Linked DNA regions of Homo sapiens. The protein of the gene in region 1 interacts with the protein of each later gene in a pairwise test. Each region holds a gene or a part of one and is shown on either strand. Other genes may lie near its edges. The genes, in order: F10 and NBPF19.

Evidence for each region.
Region 2: the proteins of F10 (region 1) and NBPF19 interact in a two-hybrid assay, tested with the Homo sapiens proteins (one large-scale study listed by BioGRID).

Annotation. Positions count from the first base shown.
Region 1 is NC_000013.11:113,139,728-113,143,545, reverse strand, and holds part of F10 (coagulation factor X isoform 1 preproprotein), read right to left. Parts: intron 2,628-3,818; coding exon 2,496-2,627; intron 1-2,495. UniProt on the Homo sapiens protein: Factor Xa is a vitamin K-dependent glycoprotein that converts prothrombin to thrombin in the presence of factor Va, calcium and phospholipid during blood clotting.
Region 2 is NC_000001.11:149,551,263-149,555,080, forward strand, and holds part of NBPF19 (NBPF family member NBPF19), read left to right. Parts: intron 1-64; coding exon 65-237; intron 238-946; coding exon 947-998; intron 999-1,624; coding exon 1,625-1,797; intron 1,798-2,511; coding exon 2,512-2,620; intron 2,621-3,232; coding exon 3,233-3,476; 3' UTR 3,477-3,818.

The DNA.
Region 1 (3,818 bases):
CAAGAAAGCTTGACGGATGGACAGAGACAAACGGGCCGGGCGAAATGGGATGAATGCATCTGGCCGGAGGATGCCAACAGGAGAACCCAAGTGCTGGGCGTGTGCGACTCCCTGCAAAATTCTTTCCAGTGTGCTGTGTGTTGGAAAACTTTTCCTAATGAAACATTGAAGAAAAAAAAGTTTTCAGGCAGAAGGAATGGCGCACGCAAACAACTGGAGGCACAGGAGAGCGTCTGGAATAGCACAGCTCCCAGAGAGGCCACGCCGAGATGTTAGGAAGCTTCCTTTTGTATAACGGCCAATTAGGGCACCAAGGCCAAGAGAATGGCTGAAACATGTTGGAGGAAGGCAGGGGTGTGGGGGAGCAGGAGAGGAGAGGAGGGGGGAATGGATGGCAAGGGGCTTCTCTGTGGCCACACGTGTCTGGGGTCAGATGGGCACAGCTTAGCTGTTTACTTGCTGTGCTCCTGCGCAGTCTGAGGAGGCTCCGGTGAATCTGCCAGCCGCAGGGGCCTCCACCCCGCCGTGCCTCAGCTCTGTCCATGTGTGCAGTCACCACCCTTCCAAGTTCTGAGTTCATCCATTATTTGGAACTGAACTTTTTTTTTTTTTTGAGATGGAGTTTCTCTCTTGTCTCCCAGGCTGGAGTGCAATGGCATGATCTTGGCTCATTGCAACCTCCACCTCCTGGGTTCAGGCGATTCTCCTGCCTCAGCCTCCCGAGTAGCTGGGATTACAGGCGTGCGCCACCACGCCCAGCTAAGTTTTTGTATTTTTTTTTTTATAGAGACAGGGTTTCACCATGTTGGCCAGGCTGGTCTTGAACTCCTGACCTCAGGTGATCCACCCACCTTGGCTTCCCAAAGTGCTGGGATTACAGGCGTGAGCCACCTTGCCCAGCCTGAACTTTTTGCACTACAAAGTAGATTATGTAATTTTATTTTCACACATCACATTTGCCTTTTGATTTTTTTTTTTTTTTTTTTTTTGAGACAGAGTCTCATTCTGTTGCCCAGGCTGGAGCGCAGTGGCGCAATCTCGGCTCAGTGCTCAGTGCAAGCTCCGCCTTCCAGGTTCACGCCATTCTCTTGCCTCAGCCTCCTGAGCAGCTGGGACTACAGGCGTGCACCACCATGCCCAGCTAATTTTTTTTTTTTTTTGTATTTTTACTAGAGACGGGGTTTCACTGTGTTGGCCAGGATGGTCTCGATCTCCTGACCTCATGATCCGCCCGCCTTGGCCTCCCAAAATGCTGGGATTACAGGCATGAGCTACTGCACCCGGCCCACACTTGGTTTTAAATGGATTTGTGATTGTTTCTAGAATTAAAAAATATTCGTGTGTATGTCAAGAAATGACTTCAGTTAAAATATTTTTTAACCAGCTTAAGCTTGAATGTCATTGCCAGTAGCAAGGTCAGCCACAGTGTCTTTCACTTGCTGAGATGTTTCAGGCACATAATTGAAGCAGCGCTTGAAGGATGCATATGGAACCCGGTCTTTTCGTGATCACTCATCTTTGGAAGTAAATTGTTTTCGGTAAGAAGGATATGAAAGGAAGAGTGACAGAACACTCGGGAGTAACCTGTGTCTGGAGGGGACAGTCATGGTAGCCGGGGGCAGAACACGGTCTGGGGGCTGAGCCGCACCTGAAGCCGGAAGGTGAGCTGGGTCACCAGGCTCTTGAAAAGGCGGGCCTGGAACTCTGCCCTTCGAATATGCCCCCGGGTGAGGCCAACGCTGCGGGTCGGGCCAGCTATGAGTGGGAGTGGGGTTGCTGTGCAAGGTGCAGCTGTGACGCCTAGGCCCCGCCTTCGAGGGCCTCATGTGTGCTGGCCGTGTGGAAGTGCCGGCAGCCAGGCAAGCCCAGCGTAGGCAATGCCCACGGGGTCAGGACAGGGAGGCTCGTCCCCACCCTGCCCAGTCCCCTGCCTGTCCTGTGCTCACTGCCCTCTGGCCGCCTGTTGTCCACATTCATCAAGGAAAAGAAAAACTACGTTCAATGAACACTGGTCCTGGTAAAAGGAGCTCAGAGCCTGAGCGTCCCCTGACTCCTATCCCAGCCCCGCACCTTAGCTCCAGTTCCTCGGGCCAGCTCTGCCCTTTGCCTGCCCTGGTGCTTTGAGCCCTTGCACTGGATCCCCCCACAGTCCCAATGCAGACTGAGGGCCTGCGGTGGGCCAGGCATCATGCAAAGTGCTCCAGGGATCACCCAAGCAGTCAGGCAATAGTGTTGGTCCCATTTGTCAGATGGGGAAGCTGAGGTTAAACAGCAGATCTGGCTTACAGAAATAATGGGTCTGTTTCCAAACCTCATGGTCTTCATGTTTGAACCACCTGGGCCCGGAGCCCAGGGCTCAGTCCTGTCCTCTTGGTGTCACTGTTACCTGCCAGGCCCGCCCAGAACATGCCTGTGTCCCCACCCCCTGGCACGGGCTTGTCCTCCCTGGCCCGGCCCAGCGGCAGCGGGTGGCTGTGGCCCAACGTGCCTCCTACCTGTGGGAATGCAGGCCTTGCCGTTGTCAGCCAGGGTGTACCCGCGGGCGCAGGAGCACACCACAGAGTTCTGTTCCTCGTGGCAGAACTGGTCACAGTCCCCGTTGTCCAGGCTGCAGAGCTTCCGTGTGACTGCAAAGGAGAGGCACGTTGGCTCTGGGGACAGCTGGAGAAATGGAGGCTGGGCTGGCCCAAGGGTGCCAGCTACATCCACTTGCCTGTCAGCCACAAAGCGGCCATTGGGTTGAGCAAAGGGCCAGAGCCAGGCGACAGGTACACTTGCCTTGAAGGGCAACCTCACGGGTCACGGGGAGCTCATGGTGCAGTGCCCGGTGTAGCCAGAAGCCAGGCTCCAGGTACCTGCCCCTCACACCTCCGGGATGGCCGGTACCCCCTGCCCCAGCAGCACTCACATTACGGTCACTCCACATCCCTCTGTGTGGCTTTTGATGAAAAAGTAATCACAGTGCAAAGATCAACATGCCTGAAATTTTAGAAAATGTGCATAATAGCCCTGGGAGCCTGAACAGGGTTATGCCTCATAAGTTACCAAATGGTGTTCCAGGGAGGCGACTGCGGACTTGGAATGGAATGATGCGTAATTGATATTCTCATCAGGGAAAACTCAAAAGTAATCCAATCTAAGAACACAGTCTAAAGATGATCAATTAGGCCGGCGCTGTGCCTCACGCCTGTAATCCCAGCACTTTGGGAGGTCGAAGCGGGCGGATCACCAGGTCAGGAGATCGAGACCATCCTGGCTAACACGGTGAAACCCCGTCTCCACTAAAAAATTAAAAAAAAAAAAAATTAGCCGGGACTGGTGGCCGGGGCCTATAGTCCCAGCTACTTGGGAGGCTGAGGCAGGAGAATGGCGTGAACCTGGCAGGCGGAGCTTGCGGTGAGCTGAGATCGTGCCACTGCACTCTAGCCTGGGCCACAGAGCGAGACTCCATCTCAAAAAAAAAAAAAAAAAAGATGATCAATTAAGTACTTTAAAAGAAATGCAAATCTTTTTCCTTAGGGAAATTGATCTAACAGTAGCCTAACTTTTTATTTAAAACTTAATCACCACATTAGAGAAAGCACTTAGTGATTTTTCCACGTAGAACTAATTAAATGTATCAAATTTTTATAATTGGCCAATCACAAATATTCACAAATATTGACACCTGCATCCATACACATAAATAAGAGGTGATTTAGAATCACTGCACAGGGTCACAAGGAGCAGGAATAACAGGGCAATGCACTTGGCCCCAAGGAAAACAGAGAGTCCACTCCTGTTTACACATGAATGGATCACACGCTTCATCAATGTTC
Region 2 (3,818 bases), on another chromosome or scaffold:
TAGCTGGGGCTGTGTGGTTTCTGATTCCCCCTGGCTTATTCTTTACTTTTTCCTACTTTTCCAGGCTCAGCAGGGAGCTGCTGGCTGAGAAAGAGCCTGAAGTCTTGCAGGACCCACTGGATAGATGTTATTCGACTCCTTCAGGTTATCTTGAACTGCCTGACTTAGGCCAGCCCTACAGCAGTGCTGTTTACTCATTGGAGGAACAGTACCTTGGCTTGGCTCTTGACGTGGACAGTGAGTACCTTACTATGAAGGTGATAAGCCTCCACCTGGTCTTCCAGATAGGGGTGATATTCCTGTTCCAAGTGGCCCTTACTGACCCGAGAGATGTCATTGCCGCAGGCAGGACCTATGGGCGCATATAGGTTGTAATGAAACTGTAGTCTCAGTTGGAAGCCTAGACATGAAATGGGTCAGTGAGCAAGGCTCTATTCCTAGTCTCCAGCCATGCCTGTGGCAACCTGAGCCCGCTCTCAGCACATTGGACCCAGGCAGATGTAAAAAATTCACAGAACTATGATTTGGACTCAAGGGTTTGTAGATTTCCTCCTTCATTCTAATTTCAGTGTCTAAAATTCTTACATCCATGAACGAGCTGGGCATTTGATGAGACAGGGCTGAATACTGCAGTTTTCCTCCTAGAAATCATCTGGGGCATTTTCTTTGAACTGATGGGAACAATAAGGCATAACTGTTTGCACAAACTTGGGATAAGTGATTTTGGGATAACGATCTTCCAGAATGGGGATATTTCACCCTTGGTTCTGAGATGCAAACCAAAGAATATCATGACCAGCTTTCAGGCCTCCTGAAGTATATCTCTCACATTGTCCTGTTCTCATGCTGAGGAGCCTGAGATCCCTGTGTGGGGATTAGACAGTGGACTGTTATGGGTGTAGGTGAATTGGCTTATTTTGTCTGTCCCTGTCTGAATGTATTGCAGGAATTAAAAAGGACCAAGAAGAGGAAGAAGACCAAGGCCCACCATGCCCCAGGTAACTGAGCAATTGTGAACAGCTACTTCTGTGTTGACATCTGGAGACTCCTGGTTCAGGGAAAACAGAGCGGGCTGACATTATCGATTACATCTTTTCAAGCAAGCCTGAATTATTCCTACTAACATTGCTGTTGGTTTTCATTGCAGTAGATATTTAGGTTTCCATTTCTTCCTCCCCTTATCATTTACTAACCTACTGTAGGTGGACCAGACTTCAAAAACTGTATTCTCATGGCGACTGCATGGAAACTTGAACACATTTTATGGAAAATTATTGAGCACAGTCTTTTCATGATCACTGTATGCTGTGTGTCCTGAGGGCACTAACTCAGAGTGTCCTGTTACTCCCTCATCAGTGTGTCACCTGGACAATTCACTGAGCTCGTTCTCTCTCTCTCTGTGTGTGTGTCTGTGTGTGTGTGTGTGTCTATCTGTCTTTCTCTTTCATTCTTTTCCATTTGGCCCTGTTCTGTCCCAACATGAAGGCAATAATTTGTTACCTCATTAATGGATCTATCCTTTTACTTTCTTAACCACTTCCTTATGCTACCCATGAAACCTAGTTGGGGCTCTGTTGTGTGTGATTTCCCCTGGCTTATTCTTTACTTTTTCCTCCTTTTCCAGGCTCAGCAGGGAGCTGCTGGAGGTAGTAGAGCCTGAAGTCTTGCAGGACTCACTGGATAGATGTTATTCAACTCCTTCCAGTTGTCTTGAACAGCCTGACTCCTGCCAGCCCTATGGAAGTTCCTTTTATGCATTGGAGGAAAAACATGTTGGCTTTTCTCTTGACGTGGGAGGTGAGTACCTTTCTATGAAGGTGATAAGCATCCACTGAGTCTTCCATATAAAGATCATATTCCTGCTCCAAGTGGCCATTACTGAGCTGAGAGATGTCATTGCCGCAGTGAGGACCTATAGGCACATGTAGGTTGAATGAAACTCTAGTTCTACCTGGAAGCCCAGACATGGGATGGGTCAGTGAGCATGGCTCTCTTCCTAGTCTCAGGCCATACCTGTGGCACTCTGATTCTACTCTCATGACATTGGACCTGGGCAGATGTGACAAATTCAGAGAACTATGATTTTGACTCAAGGGTTTGTAGATTTCCTTTTTCACTCTAATTTCAGTGTCTAAAGTCCTCACAACCATGAACAATCTGAGTATTTGATGAGACAGGGCTAAATATTGCAGTTTTTCTCCCAGAAATCATTTGAGGGTATTTGCTTTAAATTGATTGGAAAAATATGGCATAACTGTTTGCACAAACTTGGGACAAATGATATTGGGATAACGATCTACTAGAATAGGGACATTTTACCCACAGTTTCTGGGAGAAAAACCGAGGAATTTCTATCATGACCAGCCTTCAGGCCTCCTGAAATATATCTCTCACAGTGTCCTATTCTTATGCTGAGGAGCCTGAGGTCCCTGTGTGAGGATTAGACAGTGGATTGTTATGTGTGTAGGGGAATCAGCTTAATGTGTCTGTCCATGTCTGAATTTATTGCAGAAATTGAAAAGAAGGGGAAGGGGAAGAAAAGAAGGGGAAGAAGATCAAAGAAGGAAAGAAGAAGGGGAAGAAAAGAAGGGGAAGAAGATCAAAACCCACCATGCCCCAGGTGACTTTCAGCAATTGTGGATGCTTAATTCTGTGTTAACACCTGGAGGCAACAGATTCAGGGAAACCAGAGTGTGTTTGATGTCATGTTTTCAACGAAGGCTGAATTACTCCTACTGTCATTGCTGTTGGTTTTCATTGCAGTAGATGTTTAGGTTTCCATTTCTTCCTCCCCTTATCATTTACTAGCGTACCATAGGTTGACCATACTTCAAAAGCTGTACTCTCATGGCCACTGCATCGAATTTTGAGCATATTTTATGGAAAACTATTGAGCTCACTCTTTTCATGATCACAGTTTGCTGTGTGTCATGAGGGCACTAACTCAGAGTGTCCTTTTACTCCCTTACCAGTATGTCACCTGGCCAATTCACTAGGTCACTTTCTCTCTGTCTCTGTCTCTGTCTCTCTCTCTCTGTCTTTCTCTTTCATTGTTTTCTACCTGGCCCTGTTCTATCCCAACATAAAGGCAATAAATTTTTTTTTTTACCTCATTAATGGATCTATCCTTTTTCTTTTCTAACCACTTCCTTATGTGACTTCTGAAATCTAGTGGGGCTCTGTGGTGTCTGATTTTCCCTGGCTGCTTCTTTAGTTTTGTCTCCTTTTCCAGGCTCAACAGCGTGCTGATGGAAGTGGAAGAGCCTGAAGTCTTACAGGACTCACTGGATGGATGTTATTCGACTCCGTCAATGTACTTTGAACTACCTGACTCATTCCAGCACTACAGAAGTGTGTTTTACTCATTTGAGGAAGAGCATATCAGCTTCGCCCTTTACTTGGACAATAGGTTTTTTACTTTGACGGTGACAAGTCTCCATCTGGTGTTCCAGATGTTAGTCATATTCCCACAATAGGCAGCCCTTACTAAGCCGAGAGATGTCATTCCTGCAGGCAGGACCTATAGGCACGTGAAGATTTGAATGAAACTACAGTTCCATTTGGAAGCCCAGACATAGGATGGGTCAGTGGGCATGGCTCTTTTCCTATTCTCAAACCATGCCAGTGGCAACCTGTGCTCAGTCTGAAGACAATGGACCCACGTTAGGTGTGACACGTTCACATAACTGTGCAGCACATGCCGGGAGTGATCAGTCGGACATTTTAATTTGAACCACGTATCTTTGGGTAGCTACAAAATTCCTCAGGGATTTCATTTTGCAGGCATGTCTCTGAGCTTCTATACCTGCTCAAGGTCA